3 linked regions of the Homo sapiens genome follow. The protein of the gene in region 1 interacts with the protein of each later gene in a pairwise test. Each region holds a gene or a part of one and is shown on either strand. Other genes may lie near its edges.

The links.
Region 2: the proteins of DNAJB6 (region 1) and C11orf54 interact in binary tests that used the Homo sapiens proteins (3 or more experiments, as listed by UniProt).
Region 3: the proteins of DNAJB6 (region 1) and IQUB interact in binary tests that used the Homo sapiens proteins (3 or more experiments, as listed by UniProt).

Annotation. Positions count from the first base shown.
Region 1 is NC_000007.14:157,381,718-157,389,428, forward strand, and holds part of DNAJB6 (dnaJ homolog subfamily B member 6), read left to right. Parts: intron 1-528; coding exon 529-660; intron 661-3,149; coding exon 3,150-3,291; intron 3,292-3,823; coding exon 3,824-3,894; coding exon of another isoform or gene 3,895-3,929; exon of another isoform or gene 3,930-4,607; intron 4,608-7,711. UniProt on the Homo sapiens protein: Has a stimulatory effect on the ATPase activity of HSP70 in a dose-dependent and time-dependent manner and hence acts as a co-chaperone of HSP70. Plays an indispensable role in the organization of KRT8/KRT18 filaments.
Region 2 is NC_000011.10:93,751,317-93,758,671, forward strand, and holds part of C11orf54 (ester hydrolase C11orf54), read left to right. Parts: intron 1-2,365; coding exon 2,366-2,439; exon of another isoform or gene 2,440-2,443; intron 2,444-2,619; coding exon 2,620-2,721; intron 2,722-3,893; coding exon 3,894-4,070; intron 4,071-5,999; coding exon 6,000-6,149; intron 6,150-7,355. UniProt on the Homo sapiens protein: Exhibits ester hydrolase activity on the substrate p-nitrophenyl acetate, in vitro. Regulates DNA damage and repair by regulating HIF1A degradation via chaperone-mediated autophagy (CMA).
Region 3 is NC_000007.14:123,531,596-123,539,676, forward strand, and holds the start of IQUB (IQ motif and ubiquitin-like domain-containing protein), read right to left. Parts: upstream 3,001-8,081; 5' UTR 2,897-3,000; intron 1,599-2,896; exon of another isoform or gene 769-1,598; intron 1-768. UniProt on the Homo sapiens protein: Adapter protein that anchors the radial spoke 1 (RS1) complex to the A microtubule of outer doublet microtubules in axonemes. The triple radial spokes (RS1, RS2 and RS3) are required to modulate beating of the sperm flagellum.

The sequences.
Region 1 (7,711 bases):
CTTAGCTTACATGGCCACACCATTCCTCGTGTGTGTGTGTGTGTGTGTGTGTGTGTGTGGGCGCGCGCATGTTAGGGTAATCCATTTTTCTGTTTGTTTCTGAATTGCTTTGGAGAAGGCAACTCAGACTCCAAGGAATACAACAGCTGCCGTGTGAAGCTTTTCTCACTTTTCCAGTGGTCGTAGCAGGAACAGCGTCTTGACCTCACATCAGTGACGTGAAAAGAGCTGAGTTTGAAGTGCATATTGGTCCTCCATAAAGAATGTGTGTATGTGCTGTTTTTTTAATTAAGTCTGGTAATTTATTTGATACAATGTATTGTAGTTTTAGTTGAATTAAACTAGTTAGTAAAACTGTTGGTGAGGTAGTGTTTCAGTTACTCTGTAGATAAGCTCTTTTGTTAAAACCTCTTAAGTTTTTTGTTCCTGAATATGTTACAAACATCTATTTTCTCTTACTGTAGCTATCACATGAGGAAAAAAACTTGAAAAAAAGACTTCATAGTGTGTGTTTATGTTTGATTTTAGAAGACCCTTTTGAGGACTTCTTTGGGAATCGAAGGGGTCCCCGAGGAAGCAGAAGCCGAGGGACGGGGTCGTTTTTCTCTGCGTTCAGTGGATTTCCGTCTTTTGGAAGTGGATTTTCTTCTTTTGATACAGGTATTAAATCCCTAGGTTTAATCTCTGTTATCTTAACAGCAGTTAGTACTTATAAAATCATAATACTCTTTTAGTTAGAGTGCTTTAAAATATGTGTATACCTTTCGTAGAATAGCATTGTGGATTTGCCAGCTTTTTTTGGTATACAGGTCTGCGCTTAACCTACATTTTCTCCTAATCTTCCTAAGAATGTCGTGCTTGGAAATCTTCTCCTCTTAATATAATAATCAAGGCCAGAATGTAATGAAATTCTTAGTTAAAAAGGGGCAACATATGTTCTGCATCAGTAGGTGGAAAGTAACGCAGTTGGAAAATCTCACTAACCTTCATGCTGTCTAACCTCCTTTGTAGTTAAAACAAAAGTGCACAAATAGCATCCTAGGAGCATCCCACTGGATGGAATCGAAGGCTGGGCCTTACCACTAGCCCAGGCCAGGCTCACTCACTAGTGAAGTGTCAGCCTCACGCACGTAGCTCTTCATAGTTCACCGATGGAAACAAGCTTGTAGACTGGAGTAACATGAATATGCATATATCATGATATGCCTGTGTGTTTAGCCTGAAGAATCCCACTTTTCTCTGAAGCTCATCCAGTTTCTCTTCACAAAGGAGCTTTTTTTTTTGTTGTGTTTTGTTTTTAAATTTAAAAAGAGTCTCACTTTAGTGAGTGCCACTCTTAGTGTAGTGGCACGGTCTCAGCTCACTGCAGCCTCCCGCCTCCTGGGTTGAAGTGATTCTTGTGCCTCAGCCTCCTGAGTAGCTGGGATCACAGGTGTGCACCAGCAGGCCCAGCTAATTTTTGTATTTTTAATGGAGACAGGGTTTTTGTCGTGTTGGCCAGGCTGGTGTTGAACTGACCTCGGGTGGATCCACCCGTCTTGGCCTCCCAAAGTGCTAGGATTACAGGCATGAGCCACCACTCCTGGCCTGGAGCTGCTGTTTTGATTCTCTCATTTTTATTTTTAAGCCTCCACGATAAGAATTGGGAGAGCTTGTTATATAGGGTTCCTTCTTCATCATGGTCAGAATTTTATTTTCTTTGAACATTGCGCTCATGCCATCTAGGTAAGTAGTGAATTCTGCTCGATTGGACCTCAGTTTTGATGTGCTTTCCCTCAACAGATCCTCTCATTTGATACCATGGAATATGCTGACCACAGGTTAAGAAAGCTAGTTAAAAATACCACGTAAATTGTCCTTTTTAAAAGTAATCAGTGGCTCCTGTATGTGTGTTTGTGTGTGTGTGTGTGTGTGTGTGTGTGTGTGGTGGGGGTGTAAGCCTTCTCCACTTCTGAGGTGCCTTACAAAGTATCACAAGAATAAATACTTAGCGAGGCTTAATTGAGACCAGTGCAGTAGCCACCAGCCACGTGTAGCTCCTGAGCCCTGGAGGCCTGGCTACTCCTAACGGAGATCAGCAGGAGTGTGAAATAGTCATTGGGTTTCAAAGATGGAACATGGGAAGCAGTGTAAAATACCGCAAATGATTTTGATTTTTTGTATTTCCAATTGAAATATTTTGGATATACTGTATTAAATAAAATACTAAAATTAATGTCACTAGTTTCTGCTTTTTAGTGAAATCATTAGAAAAGGTAAACTTAACATACCTGGTTCACATATTTCTTCAGGACACCACCAGCCCTAGACAGTATCTGCGCTTAGATGATTGAATCATGTTCAGAGGTATGCGTCATTTGTGTTAATGGGAGCATTTTGGAAACAGGACAAAAGCTCTAACCAGTAGACCAGCTTTAATATCGAAAAATAGGTTTGCTTTAGTGTGACTTGTGAAAGTTTTTAGTGTCCACACTGCGATAATATCCATAATGTATAATTGAGAATGGTGTTCATGAACTGTAGAACCATAGTTTTTTGAGACGAATACTTGTATTCTTTCTGCAATTATTTTAGTTTTTTAATAATTTAGATTCTTATCCCCTGTGGTCCTGTGGCAAAGAGGAGGGAAGCCGATTAGGTTTGCTGTTCTGTGGTGGTGAGGTCACTCTGTTCCTGTGGGGTAAGAGTGTCCATCACAGTCTGTGGAGTTTACAAGCCACGCCAAAGCAAACAGAGCTTGATACCGAGGCTGCTCTGCTGGTTGGAGCTTAATACTGGTCTCGGTTCCAGAATGTTCACATTAACACAACACGTGCTTCATGGTGCCAAGCAGACCACCCACAAGCAGGGGCTGTCTTTGGCATGTCAGAAAAGCTGCTTGGGTCCCGCGAAGCTCTGCATGAGGAGAGGGGGAGGGGAGAGGCTGCACTCTCGCGTTGCCCTAGAGTCCCCACTCAGGGATCTGAGAGACAGTCTTTCCCCCTGGGCACCCCAGCACTTCAGCTGAGGCCTTGATAGTTGCGTCGTTTATTACTCCTCGGTTCTATGCCTTAACATTAAATATTCTGCTACTGAACTTTCAAACTCTTGTCTTTGCATTACTAGTTGACATATTTCTTTAAGCATTTTTCTTTTCTGTTTTCCTGTAGGATTTACTTCATTTGGGTCACTAGGTCACGGGGGCCTCACTTCATTCTCTTCCACGTCATTTGGTGGTAGTGGCATGGGCAACTTCAAATCGATATCAACTTCAACTAAAATGGTTAATGGCAGAAAAATCACTACAAAGAGGTACTGTGGTATTCTGCATTTTATATTTTTAGTAAGCAGGCGTAACGTTTCACTGGTGCCATGTTGCACGTCTCCCAGAGTGTGAAGTAGAGGTTGTTGTATGCTAAATCTGGCGCCATGAAAATCTTTTGCTCTCCAAATTCATTAATTAAAGCCTTTTCTCTTAAATTTTACTTAACTGTTGAATTATTAGAGGGAATCTTTAATGTAATACAGTGTAATAAGTTTCTGCAGCATTGTTAAAATGGTAAAATGGAAAATCATTAATAGTAAAGCCTTTACTGTTTTATAGCCTCTGCATGTATTTAGCATCCGCCTGTACGGTATTTGAGACACAATTTATTTTGTCAGGTTAATTCTATTTTAGGAAAGGAAGATGTGTTGTTGACAGGTTGGCTTCAGCCATGTTTTTACAGCCTGAAAATTACTTATATTCATGGTGTATTTCAGTAATGTCCTTAAACAACTTAGTTACCCTCACACATGCATTTTCTTTACCAGAAAGGTTTTTAAATGAATTTTTTTCCTACAGAATTGTCGAGAACGGTCAAGAAAGAGTAGAAGTTGAAGAAGATGGCCAGTTAAAGTCCTTAACAATAAATGGTAAGGAGCAGCTGCTGCGCTTGGATAACAAGTAATTCAACGCACGCACTTAACAGAAATGTTAAACTATAACAAGCACCATTTGAGGATTAACAGGAACATTTTTTTGAAGATTTCAAACGAACTCGACTTTCAGTATAATTGTACCTAAAGTATTTATAAACAGCTCATCGGAGCCTCTATTTGTCATAGACTTTTGAGTTGATTGTTGGGACCACATAATAGGACCATTTTTTTTTTGTCTTTAAAATTGTTGTAAATCTCTGTATGCACTTTGCTTTTTTATTAAACGTACTCCAAGGTGAGTCTTGACTCTTTAGTGTAGGACAAGATTGTACACTAACACCAGCATGGACCTGCTTTTCATTGTGTCTGAAATGTGAGCCACGTAGTGTCGGCCTGCTGTGAAGTTAACATTGCCAGGACGATTCTTCTACAGAAATAATTTCAATTTTTTTCAGTATTTAGTAGTGAAAGATATTAATACATTAATGGTAATACATTTCTGGTTTAATATAAATTAAGGATGTTTTCTAGTTGTGCATGAATGCTGGCAACTTAGTAAGTTTTGACAATTGTTTAAATATGTAATGTTAAGCTTAGGTTTAAAAAAGTAAAGCTGGTAAACTGGGTCTTTGTCATTTGCTTTAAAAAAAAAAAAAAAGAAAATAAATGCGAATGTGTTGGTGCATTCTTCCTGAGTGGGATCTGGAGCTTTTTTGTGTCTGTGTATGATTTGTGCCTGGGCTTCTAGTGTCACTTTAATAGCGTTTCGTGCTGTTCATTCAGGTGGATGCCGCACCTCAGTTACATGTAGACATTTTCTTCAGTATATTTGAAGTATATGAAGATTTTCATATTGTAAGTTGTGATTTAGCAATTGATCAAACATTTAATTATGGTAACATTTCTACAGGAGAGGGAAGAAACCATTGTATAATTTTTCACTCTTAAAGTATGTTCTAGTTTGATGTAAGATCACTTACGGATCCGGGCGCGGTAGCTCAACGCCTGTAATCCCAGCACTTTGGGAGGCTGAGGCGGGTGGATCACCTGAGGTCAGGAGTTTGAGACCAGCCTGACCAAGATGGTGAAACCCCTGTCTCTACTAAAAATAGAAAAATTAGCTGGGTGTGGTGGCAGGCGCCTGTAATCCCAGCTACTCTGGAGGCTGAGGCAGAAGAATTGCTTGAACCCGGGAGGTGGACGTTGCAGTGAGCTGAGATCGTGCCATTGCACTCCAGCCTGGGAGACAGAGCAAGCCTTCATCTCAAAAAAAAAAAAAAATCACTTTGGGACAGTCAAGGTCTTTTGTTTCTCAGTTTGTAATATCTTTCATGATTACCATTGGTAACTAGAATCCTAGCTGTAGTGAATATTGAACTAGACTTTGACTGAATTTGAAACTGTTTTGGAACTAAACAGCGTGAAAACCGCTAGAAGGACAGGCGGTTCCCTGACAAACAGCGTAGCGTGTTCCATCCGTGCTGGCTTTGCAGGAGGGCATAGAGATTGCTCGGGATACGCCAGAGCCCTTAAGCAACCTCACGTGCTGTTACTGAAAATAAGTAAAAAATATTTTAAGGAATTTCATAGGAGCTCAAAAAAGCATAGCAACAGTTAAGTAATTGGGGACAGTTGAAGTACAAGAAGAACAACGAGTGATGTGCTTGTCTGTTGTGTCGGAAATAACCCAGCACGCGGCACTTCCTGTCTCTGGATAAGGTAGGTATGCAGCCATGGCACGTGCGGGAAAGCGGGACAGCGCCCTCTAGTGTTGGAAATCCCACTCACAACTAGCATTGTGCGATCATAGAGCGCGCTTTTGTTTATGCCATCAGGACGGGTGGTTTTTTGTTACTAAATAAATTCAAGTAGATACTTGGACTAAGGCGTTTTATATTTTTCATTAGTGGGTGGGATGAGTCAGTGCAGCAGCCTTGAGACATCCAGGGATGTCCAGAAATACCAGGAAAATGAAAAGTCTTTACCTGTAATTCTTAAACTAGGAAGCATTTTGCTATAGCGTTGGTACTACACAATTTTAGAACACATTTGGTTGTTCTAGACTTTGTGGAGTGTTTCATGCAACTCTAGCTGTGAACAGTTTACTCAACATGGTGTTACAGGTAAAATATGTTTGACTCCTAAGGAATCTTTCTTGTGAAAATTTTTTTTTGAGGAGGAGGGAGCATTCATTTGTACTTGGGAAAACTACTGTTTTGTTTGTTTGTTTGTTTGTTTGTTTTTTTGAGACGGAGTCTTGCTCTGTCATCCAGGCTGGAGTGCAGTGGTGTGATCTTGGCTCATTGTAACCTCTGCCTCCCGGGTTCAAGCAGTTCTCCTGCCTCAGCCTCCTGAGTAGCTGGGATTACAGGCACCCACCACCACACTCAGCTAATTTTTGTATTTTTAGTAGAGATGGGATTTCACCATGTTGTCAGGGCTGGTCTGGAACTCTTGACTTCAAGTGATCCATCCACCTTGGCCTCCCAAAGTGCTGGGATTACAGGCGTGAGCCACTGCGCCTGGCTGAGAAAATTACTTTTATTCTGTTCTTCCATTGATAGAAGTGTAATTTTATTAAGTTACTAATAGAATAGAAAGCCTATTTGTTGCTGTCAAATCTTACACCTTTCATTTTTAAACCCCGTTAAGTTTATTCCTAGAGAATTCAGTCTAAGGGTGCATGAGAGTACCTTTGAAAAGTTAGGAAATGGCTGTGAGCATTGATACCATCACTCAAGTAAGTGATGGCTTGGAAGAATAATAGCATTTGATTTAAATTACAGTTTTTGGTAAATTCAACAGTCTCTTTACTTGCTGTAGTGTTGAGCGCCTCTGAAAATAGGAAGCTGAACGCTCCTTAACGGCACGTATCTGGTTGTGCACAGCCCCATGTGGTCCCATCCATTCTGGGGTGTGCTGTCTGCTGTGTTTGGTTTGTGCTCAACTTCCCTGTTTGAGATTCTTTTTTAAGTTTTATTTTTAAAGTCTTTAATTTTTAAAAATACTTCAATAGCTTTTGGGGGGGGGGTAAGTGGTTTTTGGTGACGTAGATGCATTATATAGTGAATTCTGAGATGTTAGTGCTGCTGTCACCCAAGCAGTGTATGTTGTACCCAAAGTGTAGTTTTTTAATCCCTGTTTGGCATCCTTTTGTCTGGAGGGCTCAATAATCTGTATTTTTGTCATCTCCTGTTTTCCTATTCCTTGTAGCTCCCCACCCCGTTGGTTTGATTTGAGTGATGGATTATTCCTTATATTTCTATCCTTTATAAAATTTAAGCTTTTTAGATTCCAAAGATTCCAGGCTTGATTTTGGAAACTCGGGGTTTTAAATAATCTGAAAGATGTCAATCAATAGTGGCATCATGGGCGACTTGTCATTCTTCCTCTTGGAAGTCCTTCAATGAGTAGATTTTAGAAGTGGGTAGAGTTAGTGTCACCATTTGCTAAACTTACCTGTGCACCTAGTGTGCTGAAGTAAATGTTCCTTACAATGTGGAAACGCTTGAGGAACACTGTGGGGTGATTGTCTTTCCAATCAATTTTAATTTCTGTTTATTAATTAGAGCTTGAAAAATGCCTGCTTATCCTGTCTTGATTACCTTCTAGATATCATTTCTTTCCGGGAATACTGATCTTGTTTTAAGCACTATAGAATGAATTAGAAACATTTTTATTTGCAGAGGATTCAACGGTAATAAATAATTGGCATATTATCTCTGTTATTGATTGGCAGCAGTGTTGAAATTTAGCCATTAGCATGTTCAGTGACAGAATGGAGGCAGATGTTGTTATTTCGGAGGTTTTC
Region 2 (7,355 bases), on another chromosome or scaffold:
GCTGTAAATTCTAGAAGGCTTGTGTACCATGTGGCAATTTCTTTTAGCTTCTTCAAAGGATTTAGCATAGTACTTTTTTATAGTTTTTTTTTTTTTTTTTTTTTTTTGAGACAGAGTCTCACTCTGTCACCAGGCTGGAGTTCAGTGGCGCAATCTCAGCTCACTGCAACCTCTGCCTCCCAGGTTCAAGCGATTCTCCAGCCTCAGCCTCCTGAGTAGCTGAGACTACAGGCATGTGCCACCACGCCTGGCTAATTTTTTGTATTTTTAGTAGAGACAGGGTTTCACCGTGTTAGCCAGGATGGTCTCGATCTCCTGACCTCGTGATCCGCCCACCTCGGCCTTCCAAAGTGCTGAGATTACAGGCGTGAGCCACCACGCCCAGCCTTGATTTTTTTAAAAATATGAGTGTAATGTATTTCCCCTGCTAATTAAGTAATTAACTAAAATTAAATAAAGGTCAGGAGACAGAAGAGTACAAGAAAGAAGGAAAAATGGTTAATCTTTTTTTTTTTTTTTTTTTTTTTGTGTGTGTGTGTGTGAGATGGAATCTCGCTCTGTCGCCCAGACTGGAGTGTGGAGTACAGTGGCACAATCTTGGCTCACTGCAATCTCTGCCTCCCGGGTTCAGGCGATTCTCATACCTCACCCTCCCAAGTAGCTAGGATTACAGGTGTGCACCACGACACCTGGCTAATTTTTGTATTTTTAGTAGAGACGGGGTTTCATCATGTTGGCCAGGCTGATCTCGAACTCCCAGTCTCAAGTGATGTGCCCGCCTCGGCCTCCCAAAGTGCTGGGATTACAGGTGTGAGCCATCATGCCCAGCCAAAATGGTTAGTCTTAATTTTGTCATGCAGAGTTATGCTTGGAAGAAGTGTTTTCTGGTCAGTAATTTGTGAGTCTTTAAATTGCAATACTAGAAGCCAGATATGCATCTAATATGTGTATGTATGATCTTTCATAAACATAGGAGTTTAAGACCAAACTGGCCAACATGGTGAAACCCAATCTCTACTAAAAGTACAAAAATTAGCTGGATGCAGTGGTGTGTTAGACATTTTCTACATGAACTGGTCTTGCTAAGATCACCAGTGACCTTAAAATGTTTACTAGTACTATTTAACCTCTCCACGTATTTCATACTGCTTGGCCATTGCTGCCTGACATTCTCCCCTAGGTTCTATCTTCTCTATCCTTGTTTCACCTGTTCTTCCTTTGTGCCTTTCCTTCCTCTTTTCTTCCATATTTTCCTGGTTCCTTTTTCTTTCTAATAGTCTCTTAAATATTGATCTTTTCCAGAATTCTTTCCTTAGCCTCTTCTTATTTCTAGTAATCTATCTGGGTATTTTTTAAATCCACTCTTATGGTTTTAATTACTACCTGAATATAACTTTGAAATTTGTACATCTCACCTAGATCTCTCTGGGTTTTTTTTTTTTTTTTTTTTGAGACGGAGTCTCGCTCTGTCACCCAGGCTGGAGTGCAGTGGCGCGATCTCGGCTCACTGCCAGCTCTGCCTCCCAGGTTCACACCATTCTCCTGCCTCAGCCTCCTGAGTAGTACACCCAGCCTCCTGAGTAGTACGCCCGGCTAATTTTTTGTATTTTTGGTAAAGATGGGGTTTCACCGTGTTAGCCAGGATGGTCGCGATCTCCTGACCTCGTGATGTTTTGTTTTTTGAGACAGAGTCTTGCTCTGTTGCCCAGGCTGGAATACAGTAGCACAATCTTGGCTCACTGCAACCTCTGCCCCCGCCGGGTTCAAGCAATCCTCCTGCCCCAGCCTCCTTGGTAGCTGGGATTATAGGCTCCCGCCACCATGCCCAGCTAATTTTTCTATTTTTAGTAGAGATTCACCATGTTGGCCAGGCTGGTCTCGAACTCCTGACTTCAGGTGATCCACCCGCCTCAGCCTCCCAAAGTGCTGGGATTGCAGGCGTGAGCCACCATCTGAGAATTTACATTGTACCAGAGCAAAATATTTTAAATTAAAAAACAAGAAACAATTTTAGCCAAAAAAAGGAAAACCACCCCAAAATAGATTTTTTTTAAAGAAATAAGGCGTCAAAGACATTCTAGAAACCTTACCCAATCCAAACTTTGGCCCCAGTTCTAACCCTTGCCCTTGCCTTGTATTGCCTTTATGCCACCAACTTTATAAGCCATGCTTGGTTATGATGATTATTAGAGACACAGGTACTTAAAATAGGACAGGGGTTCTAGCCACTATGTCTTCCAATCCCTGTTATTTGTAAAACTTTATGATAATGGAGAAGTTATATACTGTTGGCATTTTATTATTAAATTAGATGTTTGCCTGTTTTTAAGGTGGCTTGTGTTTTTGTTTTTTGGTTTTTTCTTAGGCATCTGTGGGAAAACTAGAATTGCAGAAGTTGGAGGTGTGCCTTACTTATTGCCTCTTGTAAACCAAAAAAAAGTAAGTACTTTTACTCTGCATATTCACATGAAGATTGTAGAAGTTGGGTTGATTACTGTGTTTATTATTAGAAGACCTGTTGATCAGTTGGCAAGGAAGTGCTAATGGATCAGTAATAAAAGGTAAACCAGGGACTTTGTACAAGTTGTGACTTAAATAATATTTTTTCCTCTTCTATAGGTTTATGATCTGAATAAAATTGCAAAAGAAATCAAGCTGCCTGGAGCCTTTATTCTTGGAGCAGGAGCAGGTCCATTTCAGACTCTCGGGTTCAATTCTGAGGTCAGCATATATAAGAAAATTATTTTACTTTATTGGTTTGACATTTGGTTTGTCTTTTTGCTTTTAGTGCCAAAAATCCTACTTTCTGAGTGAATTGTAAATCTCTCTGCAGGTTTGATACTACTTGATGTAGATTTCTGCTATAGCACACACTCCAACTGGACTAACTGTAATGGAGTACTAACTTGTAGTTTTAGATTTTCTTAGGTCATAGCTTCAGCCTTAGATAAATGCAGGGTTCTATGGTATTCTGTTGAAGGTTCTGGATTATAAAATATTTATATTCTTACAGGATTCCGAGCTTATCTATAAATCTTTGCTTTGGGTATGCAGGCAGCTTTGGATTAGAAGATGAATGGAATATTAGTGATCTAGTCAACTCCTTCTTCCACACCAAATAGTAGGAAACTATCACAATAGTATGATGGTTATTTATGAAAGTTAATAGTTATTACTAGTATATATTATTACCATATGAAAATATTACTGTTTCTTTGAATCTCATGAATACAAGACTTCAGTCTGCTCATTCTCTCATAACCTCTTCAGATATGAATAGTAGTCATACAAGTTCTTTGCAGAAACATTAGTACAATTTGCCTAGTGTTCAAGTTAGGAAAAAAAGTTAAAAATTTAAAATAAGATATTTAACGCAAGTTATAGATACACTGTAAGAAATCCAATAAATATCTTTTTTTTTTTTTTTTTTTTTTTTGAGATGGAGTCTCGCTCTGTCGCCATGCTGGAGTGCAGTGGCGCGATCTTGGCTCACTGCAACCTCCACCTCCCAGGTTCAAGCAATTCTCTTGCCTCAGCCTCTTGAGTAGCTGGGACTACAGGTGTGTGCCACCACGCCCAGCTAATTTTTGTATTTTTAGTAGAGACAGGTTTTCACCATGTTGGCCAGGATGGTCTTGATCTCTTCTCTTGACCTCGTGATCCGCCCCCCTTGGCCTCCCAAAGTGCTGGGATTACAGGCATGAGCCACAGCGCCCGGCCTATAAATGTTTTCCAAGTTTTTTATGTCTAAAATTAAATATTATGTATTTTATGTTCTCTTATTAGGACTTGAACTAAAATGTCTTAAAAGGATTAAATGTTTTGTAACATTATTCAAGATATTCTCTTTGCAGAGATACAAAGATTGACTAATTGCCTCACTTTCTTTTCAGTTTATGCCAGTTATTCAGACAGAAAGTGAACACAAGCCTCCTGTAAATGGAAGTTACTTTGCCCATGTGAACCCTGCAGATGGAGGGTGCCTACTGGAGAAATACAGTGAGAAATGTCATGATTTTCAGTGTGCATTACTGGCTAATCTTTTTGCCAGTGAAGGCCAACCTGGCAAGGTGATTGTGTCCATAAAAATACAATATTCCCTAAATGTTCTCAGAAAGCTAAAAATGTGAACTTTTACTGCCATAAATATGGTTTTGCTAAGAAAATTAGTTTCCCACTTTGGGAGGCCAAGCTGGGTGGATAACTTGAGGTCAACTTGAGGTCAGGAGTTCAAGACCAGCCTGGTCAACATGGTGAAACCCCATCTGTACCAAAAAATACAAAAATTAGCAGGGTGTGGTGGTGTGTGCCTGTAATCCCAGCTACTCGGGGGGGCTGAGGTGAGAGAATCGCTCAGACTCGGAAGGCAGAGGTTGCAGTGAGCCAAGATCATGCTACTACCCTCCAGTCTGGGCCACTGAGTGAGACTCTGTCTCAAAAAAAAAAAAAAAAAGAAAATTAGAGCTTCCTAAGTCAAAGCTCTTTAAATAACCCAGTAATGAAAGGTTCAGAGAGTATGACAGGCAGAGCAAAAGTCATCTTTAAGGTTAAGAATAATATGGCTGGAGGCCAGACGCGGTGGCTCACGCCTGTATTCCCAAGCATTTTGGGAGGCCAAGGTGGGTAGATCACCTGAGGTCAAGCATTTGAGACCAGTCTGGCCAACATAGCGAAACCTCGTCTCTACTAAAAATACAAAAATTAGACAGGGAAGGTGGCACATGCCTGTAGTCCCAGCTACTTGGGAGGCTGAGGCAGGAGAATTGCTTGAACCTGGGAGACAGAGGTTGCAGTGAGCCAAGATTGCACCATTGCACTCCAGCCTGGGCAACAAAGCAAGACTCTGTCTCCAAAAAAAAAAAAAAAAAAAAAAAGAATAGTATGGCTGGCACAATGGCTTATGCCTATAATTCCAGTCCTTTGAGAGGCCAAAGCTGGAGGATCACTTAAGGCTGGCAGTTTCAGACCAGCCTGGGCAACATGGCAAGACCCTGTCAAAAAAAAAAAAAAAAAATTTTTTTTTTTAATTAGCCAGGTGTGGTGGTACATGCCTATAGTCCTAGCTACTCAGGAGGCTGATGCAGGAGGATCCCTTGTGCCCAGGTGTTTGAGGCCGCAACGAGCTATGATCACACCACTGCACTCCTACCTAGGTGACAGCAAGACCTGTCTTAAAAAAAAAAAAAAAAGACTACTTAGTAAGCAAGACCTTTTTCTGAGAACTAAAAGGTAATAGAATATTAATTTGGGGAGTGAGTTTGTCATCTACATGAACCATACAGCTAAAATAAATAATGCCTACTTACAGGTAGTAAATAGGTTATTTGCTTCTTTCTGATGAATCACACATTGCTCTAGATAGAAATGGTGGTAGCAAAAACTTACAGCAAGAACAAAGTAAGGAAAACTAATGCCTTACTTGATATTTACTTCCTATTAGTACACAAAAATATGATTTCAGTGTTAGCTTTTGTGAAGACTCTCCAGTTTTGGAAGTAGAGATAGCCTCTTCAGCTACTTTGAGATAAGAGATTGAGAAGTGAAAATACTTAACGTCCAAGTTGTGGAGATAATACAGAATTTTAAGGGAAGTGAGAAAATGTAATCATTTTCTCCTCATCCCCACTTACCAAAGGTTAATTCCTTTAACCAAAGAATTACCAAAGGTAATTCTCAATCTTTGACTGCCTCGACACGTATGTTAAGAGTCTCTAGACTCTCTGCACTGAGAAACTTGTCTTTCTCAGTTTCTCAGTTCAAGAAAGCATGCTTAAGACTTACTAGTAAATTACATGTAACTGATAAGTATGTGTGTGTGTGTGTGCATACATATATATATGACTGATCAAAATTCACGGGATTGCAACATCTCAACTCAGATCTGGGGGCTCTAAGCAAAGAACAGAATATTTGCTTGATAGAATTAAATTATATAATGTTTTATTTCAGTAGTTATTTTGCAGCATAGTCAATGGTATGCATCTTTATGTCCTCTATAGGTAATTGAGGTGAAAGCCAAAAGAAGAACTGGACCACTTAACTTTGTGACTTGTATGAGAGAGACCCTGGAAAAACATTATGGAAATAAGCCTATAGGAATGGGAGGTACTTTCATAATTCAGAAGGGAAAAGTGAAGTCTCACATTATGGTAAGAGCCCATGTGTGCATACATGCATGAAGGAGTTTGTGTGTGTGCACTTACTTAAGATCTTAGGATTTTTTTTTTTTTTTAAACGGATCCTTGCTCTGTTGCCCATGCTGGAGTGTAGTGGCACAATCTTGGCTCACTGCAACCTCCATCTCCCGGATTCAAGGGGTTCTCCTGCCTCAGCCTACTGAGTAGCTGGGATTATAGGCATGCAGCATCACAACCGGCTCATTTTGTAGTTTTAGTAGAGACAAGGTTTTGCCACATTGGCCAGACTGGTGTCGAACTCCTGACCTCAGCTGATCCACCTGTCTCGGCCTCCCAAAGTGCTGAGATTACAGACGTGAGACGCTGCACCGGGCCAGATCTTAGGATTGTAAAGTATGTGTTGGGAATTCTACATTTGAAGACACTTTAAACAAATCCTTTTTATTATGATTGTATTACTTTAAAATTTAAATGATAATTTTATAAATCAGATTGTAAGATAATATCTTTGTCCATGTTAGTATATTAGAACTTTATTTTGGATATGTTTGTTTTTAAGATCAAGATAAATTCAAGGCCTGCAGAGTGACTCATGCCTGTAATCCCAGCACTTTGGGAGGCCCAGGTGGGAGGACCGCTGGAGGCCAGGAATTCAAAACCAGCCTGGTCAACATAGTGATGATGGCAGCGGCAGGCTCTCTGGAGCGGCTGCAGCAGGGAGGCACGGCTGAGGCTACACACTCTATGGAGCGGGTGGGAGCTGAAGACAGGTGGGAGTCCTGCCCCTTCCGAGTTGGCGCTGGAGCTCCGTTGGTGCCGCTGCAATCGCCCAAGCCATGGCTGTAGTCCCTGGCATCCCTGTGCTCTCCCAGTGGGAACAGGCGAGAGCCCCAACTGCCCAGGCGCAGCTGCAGCAGCTCAAACCCGCGGCTGCAGACCTGGGTCTCCCGCTCCACGGAGCAGGCAGGAGCCCTGCCTTCTCCACACAGCTGCAGCTGCCCAAACCGTGGCTGCGGACCCAGGCATTCCTGCATTCTTGGGGGTCTGGGAAGGCCCCCACTGCTCTTACAGGCTTGGAAATGCCTGCTCCCACTGCCTGGCTTCTCCCTGCTGTCGGCGCCTGCTCCGATCCAGGAGCAAAGTCAGGCAGAGCCCGGTCGCTGTCGCAGCCCAGCCAGGTGTGCACACGCTCAGGGCACTGCTGACACACCAGCCCCC
Region 3 (8,081 bases), about 34 Mb from region 1:
TGATCATAATTTTCAAATCAAATTAAGATCAAACTCCACTGACCGTCAGGTACTGTATATTCTCATTTTGATAAATTTCAAATTAATGATAAAAATGTATTAACCTGCTGGTCAATTATACATTTTATAAATATATTTTAACCAATGACATATTATCAGTAAGTACAGATTCAACGGCAAGATTTCATTAAGAAAGTGTTTCAAGCTTCAGATGCCCAAGACTTATTTAATGTGTAAATCTTCACCACTACAATAACCACATGGTTAAACGATCACCACTTCCATTAGCAAGCTCAAGCCTAATAAGTGATCTCCTGGGACTTCAGCACAGAGGTTTTCTAATTTTATTCCTCCACTCAATGTGGCTATTCTCCCTTATCTATTCACGCTGGCAAAGCTTCTAGTTAAACTGGAATTAGTAACTATTTGATGATAATAATTAACATATACTGAGTGCTTCCGATGGCGCAGTTAATTCTTACAGTTGATAAAAGTGTGGCACAAAAAGGTTAATCAAGTAGCAGAGGCAGGATTTGAACCCAGGAATTCTGGTTCCAGGGCCCGGATTCGGAGTTACAAAGGTGAGTAAACTGAAAAGAGTCCTACTTTTATTGTCATTGCTTTCTAATAAAAATTATTTTTTTCTTCCAATTGTTTAAATCTCTTCTCATTCTCTATTTAAATATTAGGCGTTCATTTAAATATTAGGCGTCTACCTTACAGTAGGACATCTTTAAACAACGTAAAAAAGGAAAGCTTTGTCTTCACCTTCACACATACCGGTCTGCCCATAAATTTTGCAATCCAGTTCTGCCTGATTCTAAACTGCTTGTCTCTTGAAGCGAATGCCTTAAAAAGTGACACTGGGATCAGGATAGTTATCTCCATCCATCCTCCCTCAGAAAAACAACTATATTCGAGTAATTCTTGGGACCACTGAGAACAATACACAGACCTTTGGGTAACTTCAAGACAAAAAAGGCAAAAAGTCGGGGAGAAGGTGTGGGAGGATGATTTTCCCCTTCTAAACGTAAGGTATAAAAGGGCTCAGAAAGCGGAAAAAGAACCCTAAAAAGCAAGGTGCGGGACGGCGTGAGGGACCACACATTGGGCGCTCCGCCCAAGGGGTCCGGCTCCTTCTCCGCGGCGATGGCGCGTCCTTGGGCTCAGCAACCCTCCTGAAGACACCTAACCTCCTCCTTCTCCAGCCTGCCCCTCTGGGGCCTGCGAGCCCCGTCCCGGGCCGGGGGTCGGAAGCCGTGCCATGTAGGACCCCGAAAAGGCCCCCAAGCTTGGCGCGGAAGGCGCCGCCAGTGACCGGCTGCGGCTGGGGGCGGAGGCCGGCAGTTGCTCGGAGCTCCGGCGGGTCAGGAGGTGACGGGAGGAGGAGGAGGCAGGAGGAAGAAAGGGGGGTTGGGAGGTAGCGTCCGGTAGGTCTGCGCAGACAGCGCTGCCAGACCTCTGACTCCCCCAGTCCTGCCGCCGCCGATAGCCCCACAAGGCGACATGGGAAGTCCGCCGGAGCAGAGGGGAGAAAATTCAAAACGAGTCTACTCAACCTCGTCTTGGCTCCGAGGCCCCGCCATGCAGACCCCTCTAGTTTTTTACTATTAAAAATAGTGCTGCAACAAACATTTTATACATCTATCTCTGTATATATGTGTAAGTATACTGAAAATGAGTTCCCAGAATTAGAATGGACAAGTCAAAGGGCATACAGATCTTAATTTTGTTAAATTCCATCAAACTGTTTTCTATTATAGCCCCAAGAAGTTCCCCTTGACTGTTTCCTTACATCCTCATATTGTTTTATGAGTCCTAATAATTAAATATCCCTTTGTTGTGTGTTGCCCTTATATTTCCCATTGTATGTTTGATGTTGTTTTTCTCTTACTATATAAAAGTTTTAGATTGTTAGGTAGTGACATTTATCAATCTTTTTGCTTATGAGAGTTTCCAAATTTCCTGACATGCTTCGAAACACCTTCTCACAATGAAACATAAATACATAAATTCATCCATAAATGCATAAATGAGACAGATCTGTAAATATTGATAGAAAACAACTGGACACACAGTCTTAAGTGTAAAAGCCAATCACAGAAGAGTATGCACAATGTTACAGGTGTAACTACATATTTGCGTATGTCTAAAACACCTGTGGAAGGTGGCCTGGAGATGGGGAGAAATGGGTAGATGGAGGATTTTCACTCTTCATTCTTTTTACTATTCGAACTATTTTTTTATGTATTATCTATTCAAATGAAAATGTTTAAATCTTATTGTTTAAAAAGCAACCTCTATCATGTTTGCATACAAAAAAGTCTCCCTTTTCACCTACATTTCATTCCCTACCATTTAAAGCTTAACACATTTAGAATGTAGTATAATTAGTGAGGCAGGGATCCAGTATTGCCTTCTACCAAATAGATCTGTTGAATTTTTAGGTTTGTTAAGAGGCAAAGACCAAGGGTGGAGAGGAAGGAGTGAGAGTGCCAGGTGAGGAAAGTCTAAAATCTCTCGACTTAATATGAGAATGGTGGCCACGGAAGGCTAAGAGTCTCTAGTGCCAGGTGTGGGTTATACACACATCTTCTATGCAATTACCGTGACAAGCACCCAGGGTGTGAGGTGAGGTGTACCTCCTAGCTTGATGCTGCTGGTTCAAGTCCCAAATCAGAGAGGGGAAGCCAAAAAAGGAGCCGAGAAAGATGAGATGCTTCGCACGGTTTTTAAAGTAAAGTCGGAACATTCCTGACCGACTAGGCAGCCCCAGGCGCTCAGGTGGGAATCACTGCCCAGCACACAGAACCCAGAGTCCAGCGCGGCTGTCACCGGCTCTAGGCTGGATCTAAGCGTCGGACCAGGAGGCCGCAGTCAAAATCTGTTCTCCTACCTGTGTACGAAACCAAACTATTCTCGTCGAAGTGCTTTCCCAGGCTCCTAAGACGCAGCTTCCATACTCGCCGCGTTCTCAGCTGTTGGTCGTATCCTAGCAACGGCCCTGGCACCACCTCTTCCTGCCGGAGCACGGCAGGGGTGGGAAGGAGAGGAGCCAGAGGCGGGTGGGGGGGAGGAGCCAGAAGAGGGCAGCGGGGAGGGGCCGGGAAGGAGGAGCGCGGCAGGGTAGGGGGAGGAGCCAAAGACTGGGGGCGGGGCCGGGAAGGAGGAGGGCGGCAGAAGAGAAGGGGATGAGCCAGAGGCGGGGAGGTGGGGCCGGGAAGGAGGAGTGCGGCAGGAGAGAAGAGGAGTAGCCAGAGGCGGAGGGGCGGTGTCGGGAAGGAGGAGCGCGGCAGGAAATAAGGGAAGGAGCTAGAGGCGGGCTGGGGGCCGGGGTCTGGAAGGAGGATCGCGGTAGGGAAGAAGAGGAGCCAGAGGAGGGGGATGGGGGCTGCAAAGGAGGAACGCGATAGGGAAAAGGGGGAGGAGCCAGAGGCGAGGGGGCGGGGAGAAGAAACATGGCAGGAGAAAGGGGAGGAGCCAGAGGCGAAGAGACAGGAAGAGGGACGCGTCAGGGAGAAGGGGAGGAGTCAGAGGCGAGCGGGCGTGGAGGAGGGAAGCGGCAGGGAGAAGGGGCGGGGCCAGAGGCGAAGGGGCGGGGAGGAGGGACGCGGCAGGGAGAAGGGGAGGAGCCAGAGGCGGAGGCTGTTACCAACTGGCTACCTAGATCCAAGTGAATCAGGACACTAACTTCTCTCCAAGATCTTTTACACTTGTGAAACGGCACAGCTCTCTAAACCAAACACTGACAGCAGTTTAATTTTACAGATATAAAAAAAATCCGAGTCAGAGAAATCATCACGATGAAGTCAGAGGCGAGAAACTGTCAGGTGCCTACTTGCTTTTGTTAAACTAACAACTTGGCTCTCAGCTTCCTGGCAGCCAAAGAGAAAAGGGAGATAGTAGCTATCAAATAATTCTGCTTAGAAGAACTTTTGTTAATCACTAAATTAGTTAATAAACTAAATTTTGTCTAACAACAAATTCTTTTTTTTTTTTTTTTTTCTAGTGTATACAGAGTCTTGCTCTGTCGCCCAGGTTGAAGTGCAGTGGTTCGATCTCGGCTCAATGCAACCTCTACCTCCCTGGCTCCCGCGATTCTCCTGCCTCAGCCTCCTGAGTAGCTGAGATTACAGGCGCCCGCCACCACCCCCGGCTAATTTTGGTATTTTTAGTAGAGATGGGGTTTCACCATGTTGGCCAGGCTGATCTGGAACTCCTAGCCTCAAGCAATCCGCCTTCAAAAGTGTTGGGGATTACAGGAGTGAGCCACCGCGCCCGGCCTATCAATGAATAAGAAAACTTTTAAAGAACCACAGGATAGTATTGGAGGTCAAGTCAAGTATGTTCCTCTTGGAAATTTAGTAACAAACTACATGTTGCTATCTCATAATAGCAGCTAACATTTATGAAGTATTCATTGTCATGAGGCACCGTACATAGATTTCTAATTTAATCCTTACAACGATTTTATTAGGGAGAAACTGCTATTAGACCCATTTTGTAAATGAGAAAACTAAGGCACACAAAGTTTAATGAGGGAACCAGGATTAAACCTAAGCAATCTAACTCCAGGTCCCAGATTTTTTAACCATTACAGTACTGTTTAATTTGATTTGATATGTTAAAAGGATTAATAAAATTAATACAGGTCCATTCCCTTATTCATAAATGTTCATTGTCTTCATTTATTTCTTTATACTGTTCTGCTGAAATTGCACTCTCATCTCCCCAATAACTTTGTAATATCCAATGCCATTTTTTTCAGTCATCCCATTTTAAAATATATTTTTACTAGAATAGTGAAATATATATTCAGATAAAATTGGCTTTGTTTTAATAATGATCAGTAAAAGTAAATTCATTTTAATCATTTCCACACATTCATGAAAAGTAAAGGGGAAAAATGGGCATAGAGGTAACCACTAGAATTAGGCTTTCTTGGATGGGTAGACCAGGTGTGGAGGTGTGCAGATAAGATTTTACAAACACTCATACACTCCCATCTCCAAAATCATAATTTATCTTACATTCTGCTACTAATAAACATTCCACTGGTTTTAAACATTCACTTTGCTGGGTCTCCTCTTTAAAATTTGTCATTCACTGTTCTCAATGTTAGAGACGGTATGCAAACAGTAGGTTTAGGAATAGAGTCAGGAGATGGGGGAAGAAAAACTGGTAGGAGAGAACTTAAGTGTCTCACAGTGTTAAATGTGACTTGATAGCCACTATTCATTTTTTTTTGTAGTTTGCTGTGAGGATGACTTTATACAATTTAATCTTAAATAGGAACCTAACTTAGTTAGGCTTCCTTGGGTAGTCTGTGGAGCATGGAAAAGTTATTAGCATGTCAAAATCCTGTCCACGCACACATACACGCACATACACACAAATGTAGTTTGGTTACATAATAAATTTATATTCAAACTTAATGAAAACAACCAATAGGAAAAAGCTTCTCAATTCCAAAAGTGAAAGAGTAATTTTACAATACCATTTTCCATTTTCCTTTTCATGATAAATCTATGCATTTTCTCAGGATTTATTCCACCAAACGACTTCGTATTTCTCATGAAACATCTACCTTTATTCATCTCAGCATTTATTTATGTAATAAACATTTCTTTTGATGTGCTTTTATTTTTACAAAGATGCCACCTAGTGGCTTGATAAAATCAAGCATTTCAAAGTATCTCCTGTTGTTACTACAGGTTAAAATGAATAATGAATATTTTTAATATTAAAATAATTTAGAAAACTAAGGACCTGAAAATTTTTGTTTTGGAAATTATTTAGATTAAATTTGGATCATAATACCACTTTGTGAACTTGTTAAGAGAATGGAAATATAGGTCTATTGTCCCTTTTCTGAAACCTTTTAAGACAGATGTGTTTGATATTCACAATTTTTCAGATTTTTGAAAGGAAATATGGGCATATACTTTACATTATGTAACACATTAAGAGGGTCTGAGGAAGCAGTTTAGAATCAAATATATTGATACATCTGTGGCAAAATATATTCATATTCACATTGAAGTGCGATAAATACCACAAATAGCCTCATGTAATTCAGGTGGGGTTTGTTGCCAAATGAGTTATGAAAAAACTTTGTTTTCAGAGATTTTTGAAATTAGGAATTTAGATAAGGGACTTTGGACCTGTTTTACTCTGGTGAAAAATAATTCACCCTCCAGTTATAGAGAGATTAAAATGCCAATATTTTGTAAAAAAAAAAAAATAGTTATCTTTAGAAAACCTAATAGATTCACCTAAAAAAAAATTGAAGATCATGAGAAATACCAAAATAGAAATCTTTGCAATGCTTTTCATTTAATTATATACAGATGCCAATCATAAATTACATTTAAGTGTACCACAAAAAATTAGCTGCTAATGTAAACCTAAAGACCAATTTGAAAATTATTAGTGATGCATGGCAAGTTCAATTCATAAATTTTGTGGCACAGTCAAAAAAAAATTTAACCTTGGTTGTTTCTTTTTTTTTATTCCTATGTGTAATTTACCATGTTCCAATTCCCCACCACCACTATGGTCATGGAAATATATGTTGATGGTGCCACACTCAGCCTGGATTCCTTGTGGGTCTATGAGCACTCCTTGCCAACCCTCCTTAGACATGCAGTATGAATAAAAAATACACTTAAGACACTGGGATTTAAGGATAACCCATGCTAAGTCACTACATGACTCACTATTTTACTTCACGATCTAGAATACTGACTCATCTCTAGTCTCTCAAATGAATTCTTCCTGTCCCCATCAATCATTCAAACCCCTTATCACATTCCCACTGTGATTTCCTGTGAATTTTGTCTAAAATAAAACGTCGACCTCCTCTAAACACAACTGGTAGCCTCTCATTTACTTTTCTCTAAAACAATTGGCATTACTATTGTTGTAGCATAGGCTACAATCTCACTGAACACTTAGTTTTTGTTTTTGTTTTTAGTAGAGACGGGGTTTCACCATATTGGCCAGGCTGGCCTCGAACTTTTGACCTCAAGTGATCCACCCACCTCGGCCTCCCAAAGTAGTGGGATTATAGGTGTGAGCCACCACGCCTCCCTACTGAACACTTAGTTTTAATGGGAAGACTGCACTCAGCAAATCCAAAATACTAGTGATATGTTCAGCAATTTGGTACTTAATCCCATACCCCACAATACACTTGTGTAGGGTGTTAGACTTCTGTATGTTTACATAATCATAGAGGATGGGAGGAAAAAGAAAAAGCTGCTATTAGCCTACATGTGGGAATTTTCCTATATATTGTCATCTCCCTTTTAAAAAAGATACATTCATAAACATTGTTATTGGCTTAATTAGCTTCGCTCCTCTGAATGTGATTAGAAAATTGACAATAAAATATAAGCTCTCTTTTCTTCCATCCCCCAATTCTGAGGGAAAAGGAGGGGGAGGGGAGAATGAGGGAGAGTGAAAGGATACAATAAAACTTGAGGCCTGATTGCACATGATGACTACTACTGCTGGCATCAATTCATTCTATTCCAATGACAGACTAGTTGATCCTACTGGTGTGGGAAAGATGGCAACCTTGAGACCTGAGCCTTACTCCAGTAGGGTGCCCCCCTATATCTTGTTTGCCCAGGACAGTCATGGTGTACATCTGTTATCCTTATGTAATTATTTTCACTCAAAATCATTCCAAGTGGAATGATAAATTATCCTATAGTTATCCTAAATATAAGCCATTTTCATCCCAAAGGAAAGAATGCCAAGAAATTGGAATCGTCTGCACTAAGTCCCAGTGTGGGAGAAAGGGGGCATCAACTTTGTTGCCATTTCTTCTTTCTTAGCAAAGCTCAAATTGATTAGCTTCTCTTTCTTTTGAAGTATCTGCAGTATGATGATTAACTAGAATGAAACCCATGGGAGAACTGAAATAGGCCATTCTGAAAATTATTAAAATTAGTTTAGTAGCCACTCAAAACACTGAAGATCTCTGAATAAAAGAATCATTTGCAAAGTGATCAGGAGACTTAACCTGGATGTTTATAGGAAGCAACTGGGAAAAGACTGAAGGAGTAAAAACG